3 separate regions of the Homo sapiens genome follow, and regions 1 and 2 are each linked to region 3. Evidence: fine-mapped expression QTL. A gene starts in region 3. Each other region holds a variant in brackets. All regions are shown on one strand. Distances are from middle to middle.

Region 1 (8,182 bases), 61 kb after region 3:
ACCACGAGCTGTCTCCGAATACAGAAATGTATGCATTTGTCATATTCTATCCATCATCTTTTGAATGGCTTTTATATTTGGGGAAATTCCTACATTTTGAGTAACCCCTTCTCACTCATGTAGAAATCAGAACTTAAATTCCCCAGCCTCATTTGCAGCTAGGATACAGGCATGCTGACTAGATATCCTTGTGCAAGACTAAATTTGGAAGTGAGCAATGTGAATAAGCAAGCTCTGCATGAGATTTCTGTCCTGTTGTCAGAGCTTTCAGGCACAGAGTGGTTCAAGACCTAATGCAGAAATGGTATCAGCGGCAGTAGCAGTTTTAGTAAAGCCAAATTGCTGATATTTTGGGCTCAACAGCAGCAGCAGCAACATTTGGTATCATTTACTGAAATACGGAACACCAGTGACAAATTCCTGATTTGGGTAGTTTTGTGGCATGTTTTGGGCATGGTTTCTGAGAGCTGCTCCTTGAATGTTTCTCCAACTATCCTAATAATTCTGTGAGTTACTTAATGTCTTTTAATAAATCAGTTTTTGCTTAAATCAGCCAGAATGAAATCTACTGTTTGCAACAAAGAACACTAATTGACAGAGGAATTGTCCTCAACTTCCCCTTCAACCAACAGAATTTACAGAACTCGACTTTTCTTGATCCTTACTTACACTTTTTTAGTAGGCCACATCATCTGTTACTTAGATTACTTTGGCACTGTCCTATTTGGCCACCCACCTCTAGTTTTGACCTCTCTACTGTAGTAGACAGAGCAATCTATCTTTCTAAAATGCAAATCTCAACCTATCACTCTTAGGTTTAAGGTCTTTCAGTGGCTTCCAAATGCCCTCAAGATAAAGTCTAGGATCAAGTCCAAATTCCTTCTTATAGGCTCTCAGGATCTAGTCCTGGTTGACTTTTCCAGCTCATGTTTCCAGCCTGCTTCTCACACTTAATGTTGCAATTATGTTTTTTGGCTTGTGCTGGACCAGCAGCAACAGGATCCCTTGGGATCCTGTTAGAAATGCAGAATCTGGGCCGGGTGCAGTGGCTCACGCCTGTAATCTCAGCACTTTGGGAGGCCGAGGCGGGCAGATCAGGAGGTCAGGAAATCGAGATCATCCTGGGTGAAAGCCCGTCTCTACTAAAAATACAAAAAATTAGCTGGGCGTGGTGGCGGGTGCCTGTAGTCCCACCTACTCGGGAGGCTGAGGCAGGAGAATGGCGTGAGCCCAGGAGGCGGAGCTTGCAGTGAGCCGAGATCACGCCACTGCACTCCAGTCTGGGTAACATAGCAAGACTCGGTCTCAGAAAAAGAAAAAAAAAAGACATGCAGAATCTGGCCTGGAGTGGTGGCTCACGCCTGTAATCCCAGCACTTTGGGAGGCTGAGGCAGGTGGGTCATGAGGTCTGGAATTCAAGACCAGCCTGGCCAAGATGGTGAAACCCCGTCTCTACTAAAAATACAAAAATTAGCCGGGTGTGGTGGCAGGCACCTGTAATCCCAGCTACCTGGGAGGCTGAGGCAGAAAATTGCTTGAACCTGGGAGGCGGAGCTTGCAGTGAGCCTAGATCACACCACTGCCCTCCAGCCTGGGCGACAGAGCAAGACTCTGTCTCAAAAAAAAAAAAAAGAGAAATGCAGAATCTGACTTACTGAAGTTAGATTTACTCCAGGTTTACTGAATCAAATCAACATTTAACAAGATTATTAGGTGATTCATTTGCATATTGAGGTTTGGGTAGTGCTGCTTTATAGCAATGTCTTCTCTTTCCCTCCAGGGCTCTTACACATTCTGCTTCCTCTCTTTGAAGGAACTATCCTCCTCTTCTTTATATGCCTAACACTGTTCTGCAGGACTCAGGCCCTTATCCAGGAAAACTTTTTTGACTGGTGAAGGCAGGAATTACCATTTTACTCCTTTTTCTTTCCTACTAAACTGGAGTTTTCTAACCTAATTGTACTTTAGACTTAATCTGAGAATAAAAAATATACTGGCCGGGTACGGTGGATCACACCGTAGTCCCAGCATTTTGGGAGGCCAATGTGGGTGGATTGCTTGAGGTCAGGAGTTCGAGACCAGCCTGGCCAACATGACAAAAGCCTGTCTCTACTAAAAATACAAAAATTAGCTGGGCGTGGCAGCACACGCCTGTAATCCCAGCTACTATGGAGGCTGAGGCACGAGAATTGCTTGAACCCAGGAGGCAGAGGTTGCAGTGAGCCAAGATCATGTCAATGCACCTCAGCCTGGGTGACAGTGAGACTGTTTCAAGAAACAAACAAACAAACAAACAAAGATACTGGTTCCTGCGTCCTGCTTCTAGAGATTTTAGTTTTAATTGGTTTGGATAAGGCCTTGAAACTGACATTTTAAAAAAGTATCCCAGATGATTACAATGTGGAGCCAAATTCAGAACCACTGCACTAGACTTCAAGCTTCTTTAGGACAGGGATTGTGTCAGATTCACTCTTGTTTCCCCAGTGCCTATCACAGTGCCAGGTACATATACTATACTGGTAAATGATTGTTTCCCCTAATTTCTCAGGGATATGGAATCAGATTTGTGTTGTACACAGCATTCTATCTTATACCCTAACCCCTCTCACACACGTTAGCATCTGAGCATCCTTCTCATCAAAACAAAGAGCTACTTCTTGAGGAAAGAACTTACACTGGCATTTAAAATGCATCTCTAATCATCCTTGTATTTTGTTCTTAAACCAGTTTGATACTGATATAGTGAAGCTGCTTTATATAATCGAGTGCTGACAGGCACATTGTTTTGAAACAGTGTCTCTTTGTACCAGTTCCACAGAGCAAAACCACCAACTCTTTGTTTATAAACCTTTTGAGTCCTGAGAATTCAAAATAGTGAGGAGGTTGATGAGATCAACGCAATTATAATGAGTAGATTTTTAAAAAATTAACCAGTTTTCTGTGAGGTTAAAAATGCATTTGGGAATAATTTTCTTAATTATACCCTATTTTCTTACATTTAAATTGACTTTAAAAAAACTCTTAATATCTTATATTTATACAGTGCTTTACATGTTGTAATTGTGCAAACTCAACTTTTATTAAATATCTTTTATTATCAATTGTGTATAATATTATAGAAATGAAATGCTATAGTTGATAGAATTCTTTCTGTCCCTGAGTTGTTTACAATTTATAGAAAGATGGAACAAAATACTTCAAAAAGCCCTGACCTAGGTCTCATGAAAAAGACAATTTAAAGCGTACATAGATAGCTGTAAGGAATGACAACATATGGCTTACAAATACCACAAAATCCACGCTTTCCAGGGCATGTTCCTTGTTTATTATTGTAGCAGGCCTGAGGAGGTAGACAAAAGGCACTCTCTGTAGCTGCTAGATTTCCAAAATCCAAATCTTGTTTCAAAGAATCCTATGTTGCATTCAATAATTTTCTTTCTTAAATCCTGCATCATAAAACTAAAACTTCAGTGGGCTTGTCAGGACCTGGGATAGTGTGGGGTGGAAAAAAGCACCATCCATTTCTCATTGCAGCTGTAGTCGGAGCCACAGCCTGGTCATCAATTCATATCTCCCTTTCCGAAAAAGAAAAAAAAAACTGTTCAAGCTTCAAAACCTTGAAATAGGGTCAGCAATTAAAGTTTTCATCTACCCAAAGCTTTTGTCATTCCAAGTAAGAGAGACCAAGCCCCCAATTGCCCAGGGGAGCCCTGATACCACGTCAATTAGCAGGATTTCTAGGACACCAAACTACTGTTACTTTCTCTATAAAAAGTTAGTCATGAAGATTAATTTTCTTCTTTCTGTATCTCCTTGTAATTCATATCATACGTTTTGGGGATTTCTGCGTAGGCTATATGCTTGCGGTTTGGAATGCTTTGTACAAAGCATGCTGGTGTATTCAGGGACTGAGTGTGGGATGTGACCCAAATATCTCCATGTTGTATCAGTTGAACTAACTAGATAGTTCAGTTGATTTAGAATTGACAGGACTACCTATTGATTGACATGTATTGATTGATTGATAGAATTAACTAAATACAAAGACAATAGGTGAGTGATATTATGTGGTTCTACATAACTTAGGTGCAGTCACTTAGTACACAAAGCTTGAAACATAACCTGAAAATCAGAGAACACAAATTAATATTGTTATTGCATTTATAAAATTAAGTCTATGACAACAGGCAGATTCTTGAACATTATTTTAGCCCCAAATTTTGGAGATAGCTTACTCTATAAATATTAGAAAAAGACAGTTAAGATGCCTTAATAATTAAAACACTAAAGTAGAAGTGTCTTTATGCTTTAACATGGATGTAACAAGATGAGTGCCTTGTGGCCGGGCGCGGTGGCTCATGCCTGTAATTCCAGTACTTTGGGAGGCCAAGGTGGGCGGATCACGAGGTCAGAAGATCAAGACCATCCTGGCTAACATGGTGAAACCCCGTCTCTACTAAAAATACAAAAAAATTAGCCAGGTATGGTGATGGGCGCCTGTAGTCCCAGCTACTCGAGAGGCTGAGGCAGGAGAATGGCGTGAACCCGGGAGACGGAGCTTGCAGTGAGCCGAGATCATGCCACTGCACTCCAGCCTGGGCAACAGAGCGAGACTCCGTCT[CAA/C]AAAAAAAAAAAAAAAAAAAAGAGATAAGTGCCTTGTCACTTCCATGTTAAGTTTTATTCATACCAGTTAAATAATTTAGATGTTACTAAATAATGAGGGAGCTCTGTCCAAATGTCTGTCAGAAGATTCTGTGACAGAAAATTCAAATCCTTGGATACTATTGATCAATTTGGCAACTGATATTCCTAGCTTCAAAAATCAAAAGTTTTAGCTGGACATGGTGGTGTGTGCCTGTAGTCCCAGGTACTCCAGAGGCTGAGGCAAGAAGATTGATTCAACCTACCAGAATGACTACACTATAATTAAAAAAAGGAAAATAACAAGTGTTGGCACAGATGTGGGGAAACTAAAACGTTTATACATTGCTGGTGGGAATGTAACATGGTGCAAATTGAAAAGCTTTATGATTTCTCAAAAAGTTAAACATAAAATTACCATTTGAACCGGTAATTCCACTCTTAGGTATATACCTACAATAATTGAAAACAAGGACTGACACAAATACTTATATACAAATGTTAATAGTAGCTTTATTCACAATAATAGTAGCTTTATTGACAATAGTCAAAAGGTGGAAACAACACAACAGATGGCTGGATTTAAAAATTATGTTATATACATACAATAAAATATAATTCAGCTGTAAAAAGAGAATGAAGTTCTGATACTGCAACAACACAGATGAACCTTGAAAACATTTTGCTGAGTGAAGTAAGTCAGACACAAAAGGGTAAATACTGTATAATTTCACATATATGAAACATCTAGAATAGGCAAATTCATAGAGACAGAAAGTAGACTGGAGATTATTAGGGACCAGGGGGAGGAGGAATAGGGAGTTACTACTTAATGGGCACAGAGTTTGTCCTTGGAATGATGAAAAATTTTGGAAATAGATGGTGGTGATGGTTGTACAATTTCGTGAATATAATTAATGCCACTGAAATGTTCACTAAAAATGGTGAAAATGGTAAATCTTATGTTACACATATTTTTCCACAATAAAAAATGAGTCGAAATAATCATAGGTCCAGCACAGTGGCTCATGCCTATAACCCCAACACTTTGGGAGGTTGAGGCAGGCGGATCACTTGGCACCAGGAGTTTGGGACCAGACGGGCCAATATGGGCAAAATCCCATCTCTACTAAAAATATAATTAGCTGGGCATGGCTGGGTGTGGTGGCTCACGCCTGTAATCCCAGCAGTTTTGGAGGCCGAGGTGGGCAGATCACGAGGTCAGGAGATCGAGACCATCCTGGCTAACATGGTGAAACCTTGTCTCTACTTAAAATACAAAAAATTAGCCAGGCGTGGTGGCAGGTGCCTGTAGTCTCAGCTACTCAGGTGCCCGAGGCAGGAGAATGGCTTGAATCCGGAAGGTGGAGCTTGCAGTAAGCCGAGATCGCACCACTGCACTCTAGCCTGGGTGACAGAGCGAAACTCCTTCTCATAAAAAAAATAAAATAAAAAATAAAAAAATTAGCTGGGCATGGTGGTGTACACCTGTAGTCCCAGCTACTTGGGAGGCTGAGGCATAAGAATCACTTGAACCTGGGAGGTGGAGTTTGCAGTGAACCTAGATTGCACACTGAACTCCAGCCTGGACGACAGAGTGAGACTCTGCCTCAAAGAAAAGAAAAGAAAAGAAAAGAATCACATTTGCAGCATGATCTTGCAAATTGCTTGTTTTCTTGCAGCCCTTTTATTGCTCAGAAATCTAACTATAGTACAGCCTAGTTATCTCTCTAATATAGGGACTATAGCATACAAAAGCAGAAGGTATATCCTATTGGTATAATTGACCAAGTGCGTGTTTGCTTAAGAATCTAGAATTTAAATTTAGGCTTCTGAGTTTAGGTTTGTGTCCTTTCTACAGAAGAATCTTCACTAAATGTTGACTCAAACAGAGCAAGAATGGACTTCTTGAAGACCTTTTTGAAATTCTCCCCAACAAATAAGTAGAGTGTGGGAGAAAAGATAGTATTGAAAGAAGTGGTTAGCACTGTAAGTATCAAAGTCAACTCTAAAAGTAGTGACTGGTTCGTAGTGAGAAGTAAGCCCTGGTGTATATGGTAGGGCATCCAACACACAAAGAAAGAGATAATGGCAGTCATCATAACTTTGAAGGGCTTGCTGGATTTAAACAGGCTCCTCTCTTTCACCTTGCTGGCTACTCTTTCATAACAAAAGATGATGATGAAGAAAGGCAGAAGAAAGCCCAGCAAGAAGCGGCTGATGAAACAGGCCACATGAATCCACTGCCTTGATGCTTGCATCTCCTTGCTTTCCCAGTTAGTAGACACAGCATAGTTATTTTGGCAAGTCACCTTTCCTTTACGGTCATGATGTGTCTCTCTGAAAATCAAATAGGGGATGCTGAGGGCAGCGGCTGAAATCCAGACTCCCAGGACAATGCTGGAAGCCCAGCGCGGGGTTCGGTGCTGCTGGGACCACACTGGGTGAAGAGTGAGAAGGTAACGATCAAGACCGATGGCCGAAAGGAAGAAAACAGAGGTGAACATCCCCAGAGACAAAGTGCCATTGAAGACCTTGCACAAGGCAGTTCCAAAGTTCCAGTGATTGTCTTGAAGTTGGGAGGTGGCCATAAATGGCAGAATCATTGTTGAAATAAAATAAGAGAGAATGAGATGAAAAAATAAGAGAGTATTGACAGTCTGTTTCATCTTGAATCTTAGCACCCATAGATAGAGGCCATTGGTGATGGTACCAATTATAGATGAAATGTACAAAGAAAGGGCAATAATCATTTTTGATGCAGGAGCTAGAAACTGAGTGCTGTTTCTTACTAAAGTAGAGGCATTGATCAGGTAATCAGTAGAGTTGATCAGATCCATAATGACCTGTGGAGTGAGAAACAGTGAAAATAACAACAAGAAAAAGCAAAAGAAAAGGTTAAATGTAAAAATTTAAAGAGTAATTTTTTACATAGTGATACTTCTAGTCCAAATGATAATATTTTAACAGCAGTAAGCAAAATATTTCTGCAAATCAAATATTTTTCTAAGGTCTATACTTTTATGTTTTAATGAGGAATTAAGATCAGATGAATCTGAGCATCAAAAATAGAAATATATGGATGAAATGAAATAAATGTGAAAAGAAGTAAATGTTGGGACATTTTGACAATTGTTCAATAATTAGGTAGTTAAAAATCTATTTTTTTTTTCTGAGATAGGATCTCACTCTGTCACCCAGGCTGGAGTGCAGTGGAGTGATTACAGCTCACTCAGCCTCAACCTCCTGGGCTCAAGGACTCCTCCTGCCTCAGCCTCCCAAGGAGTTGGGACTACAGGTGCACACTACCAGGCCGGATAATTTTTTTGTTTGTTTGTTTTGTAGAGATGGGGTCTCACTATGTTGCCCAGCCTGGTCTTGAACTTTTGGACTCAAGTGATTTTCCCGCTTGGCCTCGCAAAGTGTTGGGATGACAGGTGTGAGGCACTGCGTGTGGCCAAAAATCTTCTACTTGGACGTTAACCAGAAGTCTGACACTTTTTGATGGGCAAAACTTCTTGAATAAGGCAATGTAGAATGA
Region 2 (8,182 bases), 71 kb after region 3:
GTCTTTGTATGTTTTTCTGTGGAATGTGTGTATGTGTAGTGTTTGTGTGTTTGTGTTGTATGCGTGTGGTCTCTTTATGTGTGTGCATATGAGAAACTAGATACCCGAATTATGGGAAAGATTTTTTTTTAATTGTGCATCTGAGCTCTAGAAGGACATCTGAAAGTAATGTAGAACATGGGCAAAATCATAGTAAAACTTTTCTGATCAATGTTGGTAGTGATTCTGAATATCATATAAAGTTTCCTAGGAATTCTGATTTATTGCACATAACCAGGAGATTTCTTCATCCTTAAACACCTTTAAAATGATGTTAAAGTACTTGAGAATAAATAAATGGGGCAGATCTCAGACTCTGGCATCCCACAGACCTGGGTTTGTATCCTACCTCTACCACTTACCAGCTCTGCAAGTTCAGATAACTTGTTGAGACTTTTTCTCCTGCTAAGCCCCTCAGTTTTTTTTTTTTTTTTTTTTTTTTTCAGATGGAGTCTTGCTCTGTCCCCCAGGCTGGAGTGCAATGGCGTGATCCTGGCTCACTGCAACCTCCGCCTCCTGGGTTCAAGTGATTCTCCTGCCTCAGCCTCCTCAGTAGCTGGGACTACAGGCACCTGCCACCATGCCTGGTTAAATTTTGTATTTTTAGTAGAGATGGGGTTTCACCATATTGGCCAGGCTGGTCTTGAACTCCTGACCTTGTGATCTGCCCGCCTCAGCCTCCCAAAGTGCTGGGATTACAGGCATGAGCCACCGTGCCCAGCCACAGGCGGCTTTCAGGAAGACCCCACCTCCACTTGGGAACACTGAGCTGCTGGCGCAGGGGAAGGCCACAGGAGCATCGGGAAGCTAATGTGCAATAAGCCTAGAGGGTCAATTCGGATGATAGCTCTAGGATAAACCTACTAGTCCAGAGAATCTTACCTCAGACCTGTATCTTCATGCCAGATTGGTCTTGAGCAGGCCAAAGTGACTCTACACCATCAATTTCTCACTAGGAACAGAGTGAACAAAATCAGTGACACTTTGCCTTCATTTCATATGTCTTTCTTCTTGCTGATGCTACTCCCCAAGCTTGAACTTGCTATTATTTAAATACTCAGTGAGGTCTTTTCCTCTTTTTGGTTCCTTTTTTTCTGTGGAATTTACTGCTATAGAGGTATAGAGAAATGAGTACTTCTTCAAATTATTTCTCCATTTTGAGGGGCATTAAAAAAAATCTGTAAGTGACCAAGTGCAGTGGCTCACACCTGTAGTCCCAGTGCTTTCTGAGGCCGAGGCAGGAGGACAACTTGAAGCCAGGAGTTAGAGACCAAAATAAAAAAAAAAAATAGCCGGGCCTGGTGGTGCACACCTGGCACACCTGTAGCACTAGCTACTCAGGAGGAGAGGCTGAGGCAGGAGGATCACTTGAGCCCGGGAGTTCGAGGCTGCAGTGTGCTATGATCATGGTGGTGAATAGCCACCACACTCCAGCCTGGGCAACAGAGTGAGACCCTGCCTCTCAAAAGAGAGAGAGAGAGAGAGAATGAATTGCATAAGCTAAGTCATTTCATTTAAAAGGTTAATAAACTTGTTTCGGGTGTTAATTCCCTTCTCGTATTGGGTCATCCCGCCAGGCACCCACTCTGCCTCAACTCTAGGGTGTTTATTAGCAGATGGATGGATGGTGTTGGGTACATAAGGAGGTGGTAAATATCAGGCAGAGACCAAAATAAACTCTGGAAATGAGCTATCTAATCTTTCTGGACAGAAAATAGTTAGAAGGAAAAACTTAAATACTGAGTTTCACATTAAAATGGAATTTATGAGGACAGGCCAGAGATTTATATTATTCAGTTTGGGTTGATGAAGACTGACAGGCAGAACAATCTGCATTTGTATGATGGTTGTAGAACGGTTGGAAAAAAACAGAATTGGTTACTACATCCTAGAAGATGATCTCATTATAAGGAATCTTCCAACACAGGTAATGCATTTATGAACCATTACTGACTGAGTTCTACATTTCCTATGTTCTTCTCTCTAATCTATCTCTGAAATTTTTTTTGGATCCCCTTCTGTGCTGACCTCAGTGTCCTGATTTTTTTCCTGCCTGCTTTCCTCTTCATCTCTTCATTACCAGTGGAGAAAATACATCAAAACCACTGTGCAGCGTTGGTGGTCAAGAGTTTAGGAATCAAAACCATTACCCAGTCTTTGTTAGACTTAGAATTTTAAAACTTTAACTGCTAGATTGTAGCCTTATTAAAAATAGGCTTAAATTTCAGTTCTTAATTCATTTGTGGCTGTGACCTTCAACCTAAGAACTGATCTTTGCAGGTTAAGGATAAATTTTCAAACCTGCTACTGTGTTTTAAAAGGGATTTTAAAAGGAATTTTGACAGGCTTTCATACCCTTGGGGTTAATTCACAGATTTGGAAGCAATCTGAGATATTATTTGGTCCAAACCCACTAATTCTGAAGATTAGCAAACTGAGACTCAGAGAGGTTAAATGAATTACAAAAGGTTTTCACCAAGAAAAGCTAAGGGCTCCTTCTTATGCTATCTTCTCAATTAAAAAAAGGAATTTGGGCCAGGCTTTTCCTCTTCTCCCCTCACTCTCTGTTTCTCAATTCTATAATTTCTAAAATTCATAAATAACAAATATATTAGGGACTAGTTCTTAACTTTTCTCCTCAAATATGTACTAGGGCTAGTACAACCATTAGATAGCCTAAAATTTGATTATTATATATCTCTCCTCAGAAATACCCTTAATAGTGAGTATTTTCCTCCCATAGGTGATTAAACCAATGATATTAACAATGTTAGGAAATACACAGAGTGTATTTGAGGAAGTAATTCTCTTCTGTGGCTTTAGTAATGTGGCTTCTTTCAGTTCACTTTTCATATTTCAAATCAAGTCAGATGATTTCAAAAAAGAACTTATGGAAATGGAAACAGTTTTATGTTGTTTTGATATAACCACTGTTTGAAGCAGAAATGCAGAAGCAGATGGTACTGCTGAACCAAATGTGTGAAAGGCTAGTAACTCATAGATGCATATAATTTTTAGAGTTGGAAGAGACCAAGGAGTTAAATTCATCTAACTCCCATTCTATAAGTATTTCAGATGACTGCAGTTGTGTAAGTTATTTATGAATATGATTTGTCTGCTTATAAATGTTGTGCCTGGATGACTGTCCTTAGTATACTTGTTTATGCTTGCAAAAATATGTATGTTATTATTGCCTATTTTATTGTGTAAAGTGGCCTATAAAGTGTTCTGTTGTTTTTGTTACTTTGTTTTGTTGTTGATGCTGTTTTTAAGAGACAATGTCTCTCTCTATCATCCAGGCTGGAGTGTGGTGGAGTGATCACGACTGACTGCAGTCTTGACCTCCCAGGCTTAAGTGATCTTCCCACTTCAGCCTCCCCAAGTCACTGGGACTACAGGCGTATGCCACTGCAGTGGGCTATTTTTTTATTTTTTGTAGAGACGAGGTTTCACTATCTTGCCCAGGCTGATATTGAACTCCTGGGCTCAAGTGATTCTCCTGCCTTGGCCTCCCGAAATGCTGGGATTATAGGCATGAGCCACTTCACCTGGCCAATATGTTTCTCAAATAAATCTTTTAAAAATGTAAATGCCTTTAAAGAACTTAAAAAATTTTTTTTAGAATTTTTTTTTTCAGAATTTTGATCTTTTAGGATTTCAACATTTGGGATTGTGGCCCAAACCCCTATAGGTAAGGGTTTAGCACAGTACCTGGCACATGATATGTATTAAATATATGATAGCTAATGCCAGGTGGGGTGTCAGAGCCTTGCCACAGA[G/A]AGTGATCGGCTTGAAGGTGGTAAAAAGAATTTACCAACAAAAGTATAGGTTTGAAAAGGAAAGTTGTATTAGATGGAAAGAACACTGTGGCAGAGTGCAATGGGCGGGCGCTTCGGCAAGAGAGGACTGAGGGAGCTGCAGTGGATTTTCCTTAGGGGTATTTATGGACCTTCAAGCAGGAGCTTAAGGATAATTTGGACCATATTAGTCACACAGGTAATGATAAATGATTACATTTGTAGACATTTTGGTGCTGTGACATCAGTAAGAATTGCACAGTGAGTTTTGACACGCATGCAGTCTGAAGATCTATAGAAATTCTAGTTACTTATAAGTTTTTGGGAAAGAAGCCTGGTACCAGATGCCAGCTTTAGATAGGAAGGACATCTAATTACTTCTGAATTCCTCAGATAAGGAGTTTTGCCTCCAGATGGTCTGCTTGCTGACCACCAGGTGATCTTTGCTCTCCTCAGCTAACATTAATATTATGTAAGTTGTAGTAGAGAACACCTGCAAGTCCAGTGGGCTGGAGCAAATCTCTGAGCAATGCAATTCAAGAAACATTCATTGAGTATCTATTGCATGTAAGACAGTATTTGAGACTGGGGAAAATAAAGTAAGTACTTCAAAATAATTGCCCTTAATGTTTGTAGTTATTAAAGGTGATACCTGAACTCAATAGCTTAGGGATGTTGGGGAGGGCATATTCTGGGTCTTGGAAACAGTATGCTTAAAGGCAAAGCTGAAGAGAGCAATGCTTCATTTTTCTGGCCTGGTTCTGTACTTTTCAAGGTCACTTCTCACCACCCTCCATATTCCAGCATAGTGACAGTGACAATGCAGGTGTCACTCCAGTGCTTTCTAGCCTGGCTGAAGTCACACTCACCTGGAAATCTTTAAAAACATACAAGGTGTTCCTGAGATTTCATTCATGCAATGTTTACCAAGTATTTATTGTATTTGAAGCACTATTCTTGCCACTGGGGAGAGACAGTGATAAGAGCTGTATTCTTATGGAGCTTACATTCTAGTGGGGAGAAGTGAGCATTAAACCAGTAAATAGAGGCAGATACGGTGGCTCATGCCTGTAATCCCAGCACTTTGGGGGCTGAGGAGGGTGGATCGCCTGAGGTCAGGAGTTCAAGACCAGCCTGGCCAACATAATGAAACCCCATCTTTACTAAAAATACAAAAAAAAAAAAAAAATTAACTGGGTGTTGTAATCCCAGCTACTCGAGAGGCTGAGGCAGGAGAATCGTTTGAACCCGTGAGGCAGAGGTTGCCATGAGCCGAGATCACGCCGTTGCCCTCCAGCCTGGGCAACAAGAGTGAAATTCCATCTCAAAAACAAAAAAACAAAACAAAACAAAAACAGTAAATAAACACAGAAAGAAGAGAAACATCAGCAAGCACTACAGTGCTATGCAGAATATTAAAACATAGAAATGTGAGATCATCATGGCAGATGGGAGACAGGACTAGATTGCAGCTCTAACTCGGACGGACAGAGCAGTGTGTGGAGGCTCACATCATGAATTTTAGCTCCAGAACGACTGCAGGAACAAAGCAGGAATCCCAAGAGGACCCACAGACCCTCTGAAGGAAGCAGACTGCTCCTGCAGGACCCAGGAGACACCCCAAATACTGTGAGTGCCCAAACTGCAGAAGTGGGAAAGGGAGACCCTCCTCTCCAGAACACACAACCCCACTAGGGAAAATGAACGTCTAGTTTGTGGGAAGTTTCACACCTTACCAGGAGCTGAGGCAATTTAGAGAGGCAAGTGAATTATGCAGCAGAGGAACAGGAAAGGTCCTGGGAACTTGCTGGGTCCCCAAGCAGGCCTTTCCTGCCTGGCCCCACAGGGATCCTTTTGGGAGGGCAGCCAGAGGTGTGGGGGAGTGGGGTGGGGGATGCCACAGGGAGAAGGAAGTCTCCAGCTAAACTTTGTAACAATTTGACCTGGGCAAGAAGCCTCCTGGCCAGAACTCTGGCGAGGGTGTGAATCCGGCATCCAGACTCCACAGGTGAGGGAGGAACCAAACCCTTTTCTTTTGCAGCTGGGAGGCGGGTAGCCTGGGGCAAGTTCTCAAGCCCTGCTTGCTCACTGCCTGGAAACAGACTCGTGGCTGTTAGGGATGGCACAGTGGGAATGAGAATGGCCCTTTGGATTGTGTGGGACCTGGGTGAGGCCTGTGACTGCCAGCTTTATCCCACTTCCCTGACAACCTGCATGACTCAGCAGAGGCAGCCATAATCCTTCTAGGTACACAACTCCATTGACCTGGGAACCTCGCCCCCATCTCCACAGCAGCTGCAGCAAGACCCACCCAAGCACCCAAGGAGAGTCTGAGGTCAGACGTGCCTTGTCCTGCCCCCCCCCATGGGCCTTTCCTACCCTCCCTGGTAGCTGAAGACAAAGGGAATATACTCTTGGGAGTTCTAGGACCCCACTCACTGCTGGTTCCTCTTCATATTACCACAGCTGATGCTCTCTGGAAAGCACCACCTTCCAGCCGGAGACCAACCAGCACAAAAATAGAACATTGAATGCAAATGGCCTAAACTCTCCACTTAAAAGATACAGAACTACAGAATGGATAAGAAAGAACTCACCAACCATCTGCTGCCTTCAGGAGACTCACCTAACACATAAGGACGCACATAAACTTAAGTAAAGGGGTGGAAAAAGGCATTGCATGCAAATGGACACCAAAAGCAAGCAGGGCTAGCTATTCTTATGTCAGAAAAAACAAACTTTAAAGCAACATCAGTTAAAAGAGACAAAGAGGGACGTTATATAATGGTAAAAGGCCTTGTCCAACAGGAAAATATCACAATCCTAAACATATATGCACCTAACAATGGAGCTCCCAAATTTATAAAACAATTACTAATAGACTTAAGAAATGAGATAGGCAGCAATACAATAACAGTGGGGGACTTCAATACTCCACTAACAGCACTAGACAGGTTACCAAGACAGAAAGTTGACAAGGAAACATTGGATTTAAACTATACCTTGGAACAAATGGACTTAACAGCTATGTACAGAACATTTCATCCAACAACTGCAGAATACACATTCCATTCAACAGTGCATGGAACTTTCTCCAGGATAGGCCATATGATAGGCCATAAAACAAGACTCAATAAATTTAAGAAAATTGAAATTATAGCAAGCACTCTCTCAGACCACAGTGGAATAAAACTGAAAATCAACCAGAAATAAACTTCAAAACCATGCAAATACATGGAAATTAAATAACCGGCTCCTCAATGAGCATTGGGTCAAAAACGAAATCAAAATGGAAATTAAAAAGTTCTTTGAGGAGCCAAATCAAGATGGCCAAATACGAACAGCTCCCATCTGCAGCTCCTAGCAAGACCAACATAGAAGGCAGGTGACTTCTGTATTTCCAACTGAGGTACCCAGTTCATCTCATTCAGACTGATTAGGCAATGGGTGCAGCCCACAGAGGGCAAGCAAGAGCAGGTGGGGCATCGCCTCACCTGGGAAGTGCAAGAGGCTGGGGACCTCCCTCTCCTAGCCAAGGGAAGCCATGAGGGACTGTGCTGTTTGACCCAGATACTATGCTTCTCCCACACTTTTTGCAACCCCCAGACCAGGAGATTCCCTTGTATGCCTGCACCATCAGGGGCCTGGGTTTCAAGTACAAAACTAGGCAGCTGTTTTGGCAGACACCGAGCTAGCTGCAGGAAGTTTTTTTTCATACCCCAATGGCGCCTGGAACCCCAGCAAGACAGAACTGTTCACTCTTCTGGAAAGGGGGCTGAAGCCAGGGAGCCAAGTGGTCTCACTCAGCAGTTCACACTCCCACAGAGCCCAGTAAGCTAAGAACCACTGGCGTGATATGCTTGCTGCCAGCACAGCAGTCTGAAGTTGACCGGGGATGATGGAGCTTGGTGGGGGGAGGGACGTCCACCATCACTGAGGCTTGGGTAGGCAGTTTTCCCCTCACAGTGTTAAGGAAACTGCCAGAAGTTTGGACTGTGCAGAATTCACCACAGCGTGGCAAAGTGGCTGTGGCCAGACTGCCTCTCTAGGTTCCTTCTCCCTGGGGAGGGCATCTCTGAAAGAAAGGCAGCAGCCCCAGTCAGGGGCTTAAAGATAAAACTCCCACCTCCCTGGGACAGAAGGGGTGGCTGTGGTTGCAGCTTCAGCAGACTAAAACGTTCCTGCCTGCCAGCTCTGAAGAGAGCAGTGGATCTTCCAGCACAGTGCTCGAATTATGCTAAGGGACAGACTGCCTCCTCAAGTGGCTCCCTGCCTCCTGTGCCTCCTGACTGGGAAACACCTCCCAGCAGGAGTTGGCAAACACCTCATACAGGAGAGCTCTGGCT
Region 3 (8,182 bases):
CATAAAAAAGGTGTTATTACTTGTTTCGAGTAAGGTATTATTTTGTGTACAGACACACAAATATGCATATATTCAACATGTAGAAACCTCCAAATGCAACAGAAAAGTATATAAATGCTATTGTATATTTACCCATTAAGAAGCATTACTTGGGCAATACAGGACAACTAAGTTACTGAAAAAATACATTACACACATAAAACAACAATTTAGTAAAATTAGCACCATACTATGGGTTTTTTTTTTTCCTTTTCTTTTTTTTTGAGACAGGATCTCAATCTGTCGCCCAGGCTGGAGTGCAGTGGCAGGATCTCAGCTCGCTGCAACCTCTACCTCATGGGTTCAAACGATTCTCCCACCTCAGCCTCCTGAATAGCTGGGACTCCAGGCGTGTACCACCATGCCTGGCTAATTTTTGTTTTTGTTTTTTGAGATGGAGTCTCGCTCTGTCGCCTAGGCTGCAGTGCAGTGGTACGATCTCGGCTCACTGCAACCTCCACCTCTCGAGTTTAAGCAATTATCTGCCTCAGCCTCCTGAGTAGCTGGGATTACAGGCACCGGCCACCACGCCCGGCTAATTTTTTTTTTGTATTTTTAGTAGAGACGGGGTTTCACCCTGTTGGCCAGGCTGATCTCAAACCCCTGACCTCAAGTGATCTGCCCGCCTTGGCCTCCCAAAGTGCCAGGATTGCAGGCATGAGCCACCGCATCTGGTCGATGGTTTTAAGATTGGCAAAAGTATATGTACAGCTTTAAATATTTAAAATTATCACCTTCTTCAAGATTTCCTTCATTTTTGTCACATAACCAGCTCCAATTTCTTAGGCAAATAATTAATATAGTGCTTTAATATGGCCATATTATGCTTCTTTTCTAGAAATAAATATTTTGTGTTGTTACCATTAAAAAAAAAAGAAAAAAAAGCCCAAGCATGATTCAGGATATATACTCCTGTTTCAATCTGTTAGGTATCTGTTTAAAGAGTGCTAACTTTCCATTTGGTTCTCACTGTAAATATGTCTGATTTCTTGTTCAGTTACACTTCCAATAATATTCTGTCTGACCTTATGACCAACTAGGAATCACTAGATTCCTGTTTAAAAAACTCTTTTGAGGCCAGATGTGGTGGCTCCCACCTGTAATTCCAGCACTCTGGGAGGCCGAGATGAGGGGATTCCTTGAGCCCAGGAGTTCGAGAACAGCCTGGGCGACATAGCAAAACCGCCTCTCTACAAAAAATACAAAATATTAGCTGGGCATGGTGGCATGTGCCTGTTGTCCCTGCTACTCAGAGGCTGAGGTAGAAGGATCGCTTGAGTACACTCCAATGACTCTGTCTCAAAAAATAAAATAAAATAAAAATAAACAAATAAATAAAACAAAAAAAACCCTGCTTTGAGTAAAGGTACCTTACTGCTGCTTATGATAAACCCTATGAATGGCATAGTAAAAAGAGAGAAGTTTACTAAACGAAAAAAATTTCCCATACCAGATCTAAATTAAAACTTAACACAGTTGCTAGAGAAAATATAAAAACTCTTCCTCTTCCCTAGACTTACAAAAGGCTAGAGTTGGCCGGGGCGGTGGCTCAAGCCTGTAATCTCAGCACTTTGGGAGGCCGAGGTACGCGGATCACGAGGTCAGAAGATGGGAGGCCATCCTGGCTAACACGGTGAAACCCTATCTCTACTAAAAAACAAAAACAAAAGCAAAAAACAAAACAAAAAAAATTAGCCGGGCGTGGTGGCTAGCACCTGTAATCCCAGCTACTCGGGAGGCTGAGGCAGGAGAATGGCGTGAACCCGGGAGGCGGAGCTTGCAGCAGCCCAGATCGCGCCACTGCACTCTAGCCTGGGTGACAGAACAAGACTCTGTCTCAAAAAAAGAAAAAAAAATTAGATGGGCGTGGTGGCACGCGCCTATAATCCCAGCTACTCCGGAGGCTGAGGCAGGAGAATCGCTTGAACCCAGGAGGCGCAGGTTGCAGTGAGCCTAGATGGCGCTACTGCACTCCAGCCTGGGGGACAGAGCGAGACTCCATCTCAAAAAAAAAAAAAAAGGAGAGAGTTGCCAAAATTATAAAACTTTACACTAGGTAAATGTAGCAGAAAAACCATGCCCTTCCTCTATCATTACACACTGCAGATCCAGAAGCATTTATGAGTCCTACAATTACCTGACATTATAATGAAAAACCAAGATTAATAAGTAAAAGTGAGGCTGGGCGCAGTGGCTCATGACTGTAATATCCCAGCACTTTGGGAGGCCGAGGCGGGCGGATCACCTGAGATCAGGAGTTGGAGACCAGCTTGGCCAACATGGTGAAATCCCGTCTCTACTAAAAATACAAAAATTAGCCTGGCGTGGTGGTGCATGCCTGTACTCCCAGCTACTCGGGAGGCTAAGGCAGGAGAATCACTTGCACCGGGGAGGTAGAGCTTGCAAGTGAGCCAAGATCGCGCCACTGCACTCCAGCCTGGGCTACAGAGCCAGACCCTGTCTCGATAAAAACAAAAACAAACAAACAAACAGAAGAATTAAAACTGAATTTAATCTATTTCCTCCTACAAAAGATTTAGTGATTAAGCACTTAAGAGCTCTAGTTCAGGGGTCCACTAATTTTTTTCTGTAAAGGACCAGACAATACTCTAGGCTTTGGGAGCCATACGGTCTCTATCACAACTACTCAAAAACAAAACATGCACAGCCATAACGAAGGAGCATTGTTGTGTTCAATAAAACTTTTATAAAACTGCCAGCAGAGCAGATTTGACCCACAGGCTGTAGATTGCTGAGCACTATTTTAATTCAAAAATTTAACACTAGAACTAGACAAGGGATCTAATTAAGTGACACAGGCAAGTCTTTACTAAGTTTTTTGGCCCCAGTTAATTGATTTCTCAAATGAGATTTAATAACAGTTTCTCAATGTCTCCTGAAAAAGCAGAAGTGTTATTTATATGAGGACTGTGGTCTCATTAAAGGATTGTTCAAACTCTTCAATTATACTATGGGATAATTAATGAACCACACAAGACTCAATAGAGCTTTTTAAAAAAATGCAGATGTCATTAAACGCTTAATTCAGAATAATTTTAGAATTTAAAAAATTCAGAATTTAACCCTTATGTTATTCATAGTTAAGAAAGACTATTATAAACTACCTCAACCTTTTTGAAACAAAGCAAGAAGAAAGGTAAGTGTATTGGTTAAAGACAAGTAAAAAAATAATTTTTTTCTGTAGATAATATATTCATTAGTTTAATGTAGTTAATTTTAATTAATAATTTAAGAATTAAAAAGGTACTTTGGAGTCATGTATTTTCTGTGACTAAAGTCAGATACAATAATGAATAATACTAAAAAAGTGACCTAATCTAACATCCATAAATAGTGGAGGGAACTTAAGCTAGAATTCAGGTCTCCTGACTTTCAGGTGAGGAGTCTTTTCTTATTCTCCTATTCTATAGTCATCTAGGTAAAACAACTGCATTCCAAGGCACAACAAATCCATACTACAGTATTCTCCAACTGTCACTATTCTTATATTATAAATCCTGCCTGCTTATCAGTGAAGAAAAAAAAAAAGTCAATGGCATTAAAATGTAACACAAATCTCGGCTTCGATACTTTATCTAAAATTACTTTCTCAAAGACATACTTTCTAAAATGTTTGGAAAATTAAACAAAATTCTCCTCTCCCCATCCAACTAATGCTCAATTCTAACCACACTTCTGCTTTCCCTACAGCTTAAGTAATTTCACTGGGAGTATTTTCTCTGGAAGTTCTTAAGTGTACTTGTGGGCCCCTTTTTTTCCTCCTTAAACTTCTAATATCTTTCAGGCTGTAAATTCCTTAAGGGCGCCTAGCCCCAAAAAAGTGCTGCATATTTGTTCAATAAATGAATGCACATAAAAACAATGGATAACTATGACCTTTAATGTAGGAGCTCAAGCCATTTTATTATTATCTGACTTGACAGTCAAGAAAATTATCCCAACTTGCCAGAGGTATCCATTACTGTGATAAATAAACACTATAAAACGCTTTATAAAGTTTCTAAAGACTTTATAATCACTTGAAATAACGCCGCGTTGGCCGAGAGTAGGGTGAAAGAAAATGTTTCCTCACACTAAGCAAATGCCACCAAAGGAAAAGCTTTCTTTCCTGGAGAGAACTGCAACAGTTAGAAAGCAAATATCCACACTCTCCACTGCTCCCTTCTGGGAACTCTCTTTGAGGGTTCCTGCAGAAAACGAACGGGCCTCTGAGGAAGCTCGCCCGAAGGCCGGGCCGGGGCCCGGCTCCTGGCTGACCACTGGCGCAGCGGACGCCGCAGGGCGGGTCCCGGGAGCGGCGAGTTGGCGAGGCGGGCTCCGACTTGCTGACCTTCCCCACACGCCCGGCAACCCCGGCTCCCGCTGGCGGGCAGAGTCCACGCCTACCTGTTGTGCACAGGTGAAGCCAGACTTTCCCGTAGTCCAGGAGGAAGAACGGACCACGCTGTTTATCAGCCGACCCTGTGCCCCAGTCAGCCCCTTCTCGGCGGACTCCAGCCCTTAGGGTCAAGACACCTAGCCCCTCGACCGGTTCTCCCACCGGCTTCTTTCGCGATCACATTGCTGCCGCGACCACCCTCGGGATCCCCGAGCGCTCAACTCATACAGCGGCCCTGGTGCGTTCTCCTTCCCAGCCAACAGGCAGCCCAGACACAGCCCCCTCGCGCCCGGAGGTGTCCCCGCTCCCTGGATCCCCGACTGCCTGCCTTTGGGGGTCCTCCTCAGCTGAGCGTGCGTCCCGGTCCAGCAACGTTACCGGCTGCTCTGCTAACCCTAGCAGAGTCTGGAATTGCCGGCGGCGGCGACAGCGAGGCATTGAGGTGGGCGGGGCGCGCGTGGGGCGTGGCCGGAAAGCTCTCAGCGGCGAGCACCGCGGGAGCTAGCGATTGGGAGCGCGCCCTGCGCCGGGCCGCTGGTCCAAGGCCCCGCCAGCTGGCCGCCGAGCCATCGAGCGCCCACTCTGGCAGGCGTGACTGCTTCACCGTCGAAAGAGCGATGGAGACTGCGGCCCAAGTTAGGATTAGGACAGCGGTTTTTCAGTCCGGAGATTCCGGCCACAACTATTTTTGTCTGTTTTTATCGTAAGCCAGAGTCTTTGGGTGCAGCTCTGGGACACCTAAAGGGCCTGGAGAAATTCAGGCGGGGCCAGTGCTGTGGGGGTAGATGTTAGACGTGGAAGGGACCCTAGAGAGCCTTGACTGTGAGGACTGAGGTAAAGTGACTTGCTCAAGGTCACATACTAAGTCAATGGCAGAACTGAGACTAATAGCCTCTTACCTTGAGTCATGTGCGTTTTCCCACTACACTCAGCGTTTTAAATGTCATTTTTCAAGTTTCATTTTGAATCTATCTCCAGCTTACAAAAAGGTTGCAAGTATAGTACAAAGAACTTTTTTTCCCTGAATTGAGATTTAAATTGCTGACACCATGCCACATTGTCCCTAAGCACCTTCTACATAATCACAATATAACCATCAAAATCAAAACATTTACATAACTCGGCGTTTTACCAATTGTCCCAATAATATTGTTTATGGTAAAAGATTCCGTTCAGAATCAGGCATTGTATTTACTTATCATGTATCTTTCCTACTCTTCAAACTGGAACTCTCAGTCTTGCCTTGCCTTTCATATTCTTGACGCTGTTAAAGATTCCTGGCCAGTTATTTTTGTAGAATGGCCTTCATTTTGGGTCTGTCTGATATTTACTCATGATTACATTTAGCTAGGTATGACAGGACTCTAGAAGTGTTGCTGCTTTCTTCTCATGGCACCCTATCAGGTGGCACGATTTTAACTTCTCTCATTACAGATGTTTACTTTAATAAGGTGATGTCTGTTAGGCTTGTCCAGTGTGGTTACTTTTTTCCCCCCTTTGTAAATTAATAAGTATTTTGTGAGGGAGACTCTGAAACTCTCCTTTCAAGATATTTGTAAATATCTTGTTTCTCATCAAATCTTCAGTTAATGTATTTATATTAATTAGTATGGATCCAGAGGTTTCTATTTTGTTAAATGACTTATAATCCGTTTCTTTCTCTCTTTTCTCTCTCTCTTTTTTTTTTTTTTTTTCTTGAGACAGGGCCTCCTTTGTTGCCCAGGCCGGAGTGCAGTGGCTATTCACAGGTCGATAATGCAATCATGGTGCACACTACAGCCTTGAACTTCTGGGCTCATGTGATCCTTCTGCCTCAGCCTCCCAGGTAAGTAGCTGAGACTGCAGGCATGCACACCACCACACCAGCCAATATTCTGTCTCTATCATTATTTATTTTGATGCTCAATTATCCCAAGTTTGGTGGGTAGGGGCCCCATTCATTCTATCTTCTGTGATATGTGTGTGTGTGTGTGTGTGTGTGTGTGTGTGTGTGTTCAATTTTTTTTTAAGACAAGAAGACAAGGTCTCATATTCATTCTAGCTTCTGTGTTGTGTGTGTGTGTGTGTGTGTGTAATTTTTTTTTTTTTGAGACAAGAAGACAAGGTCTCACTCTGTCACCCAGGCTGGAGTGCAGTAGTCTGATCACAGCTCACTGCAGGCTCAACCTCCTAGGCTCAGGTGATTCTCCCACCTCAGCCACTCAAGTAGCAGGGACAATGGGTGTGCCACTGTGCCTGGCTAATTTTGTTTGTTTGTTTTTGTTTTTGTAGAGACAGGGTTTCACCATTTTGCCCAGGCTGGTCTCGAACTCCTGGGCCCAAGCGATCCACCCGCCTCAGCCTCCCAAAGTGCTGGGATTACAGGTGTGACCCACTGTACCCAGCCTTAAATTCTCTCTCTCTTTTTTTTTTTTTTTTTTGAGACGGAGTCTCGCTCTGTCACCCAGGCTGGAGTGCAGTGGTGTGATCTTGGCTCACTGCAGCCTCCGCCTCCCGGGTTCAAGCAATTCACTGGCCTCAGCTCCTGAGTAGCTGGGATTACAGGCGTGTGCCACCATACCTGGCAAATTTTTGTATTTTTAGTAGAGACGGGGTTTCACTGTGTTGCTCAGGCTGGTCTCAAACTCCTGACCTCATGATCAGCCCGCCTCGGCCTCCCAAAGTGCTGAGATTACAGGCATGAGCCACCGCGCCTGGCCCCAGCCTTAGATTCTGTAAACATTTTATTGTAAAATATTTTTTAATACAGAATAATTAAAAGAGCTTTAAATACCATATACACATAATCCAGATTCAACATTAACAGGTTACCATTCTGAGGCCTTTTGACACATCCCCATCATTCTTTCAGCACTCCCCTAGTTACTAGGGCAATTAGATGTTTCATACTCATCCTGCTCCAGCCTTGGATGTAATCATTTATTCAGGAGCCCTGATTCCTTATAGCGGAGAATGGTATTTAGCACTAGGTATGCTCACTGCTATTGAGATATCCATAGCCCAGGCTGTCTGAGTGGATGCAGTTAGGGAATATTTATACATTCATACACATATACAGCACATCTTTATATGTATCCTTACACACACATTTACAGTTATATTTCTTTGTCTAACAATATATATTGAAAAATCATGTGTTCACAGTAAAACCTCCAATCCAGCATCATACAGTTCATTCTAGTTTTTGCCCTTCCACATTTATAACTACTTTCTCCTACAGAGAGAAGCCTGGCTCCCATTATCCTTGAGATATTTACTTATTTGAACAACCCTGCTATGTGTGAGCAATCATCCATAGTTGCCATCTATTCCTTTGGAGGATACTGCCCTTACCCCACTAAGGTTCTGAAAGCCCCAAATTAGCCATCTCAAGCCCCTCTCTCATCTTTCTTTCCTTACCATCACTCCCACACCCTGTGATCATGCCTAGCCCATAAACCCTGCCGACAATGCTCAGACCCAAACATCCCTTGCCAAGCATCCCCCTTACCTCACTTTATATAGATTAGACATACACTATATATAATCATATATATTAGTTATATATTCTTTACAGCACCCTATATACACATACATACATTCAATATATAGATTAGTTATATATCTCATATATTCATTATATATTAATTTTTATAAAACCCTATATATACACACACTATATATGTTATATATCATATATATTTGTTATATATATTACTTACAGTACCTAAAACATGAATCACATATATAGTGTGTATATCATGT

Evidence for each region. PIP is the estimated chance that this variant, and not a neighbour inherited with it, causes the effect. A credible set is the group of variants that fine-mapping cannot tell apart.
Region 1: its variant is the best candidate, but not a certain one, in a credible set for the expression of HEATR5A in whole blood (INTERVAL, PIP 0.63).
Region 2: its variant is the best candidate, but not a certain one, in a credible set for the expression of HEATR5A in whole blood (INTERVAL, PIP 0.76).

The regions. Positions count from the first base shown.
Region 1 is chr14:31,476,485-31,484,666 of GRCh38, forward strand. GPR33 (G protein-coupled receptor 33) reads right to left here. Exons shown (of 2, transcript NM_001197184.3): 2 at 6,391-7,487. The coding sequence starts at 7,481. The coding sequence ends at 6,480. Among named protein-coding and RNA genes, the nearest start is that of GPR33, 7.5 kb to the right of the region's middle. The variant CAA/C (reference allele first, on the strand shown) is at 4,622.
Region 2 is chr14:31,486,976-31,495,157 of GRCh38, forward strand. GPR33 (G protein-coupled receptor 33) reads right to left here and starts at 1,064. Exons shown (of 2, transcript NM_001197184.3): 1 at 922-1,064. LOC105370438 (a long non-coding RNA gene) reads left to right here and starts at 2,989. Exons shown (of 4, transcript XR_943723.3): 1 at 2,989-3,128. RefSeq lists an enhancer at 5,523-6,722. The variant G/A (reference allele first, on the strand shown) is at 3,819.
Region 3 is chr14:31,415,706-31,423,887 of GRCh38, forward strand. It overlaps HEATR5A (HEAT repeat containing 5A), which reads right to left and starts at 4,845. Exons shown (of 36, transcript NM_015473.4): 1 at 4,767-4,845. HEATR5A-DT (HEATR5A divergent transcript) reads left to right here and starts at 5,053. Exons shown (of 4, transcript NR_110045.1): 1 at 5,053-5,272; 2 at 6,139-6,263. RefSeq lists a silencer at 4,306-4,425 and enhancers at 4,536-4,585, 5,016-5,165.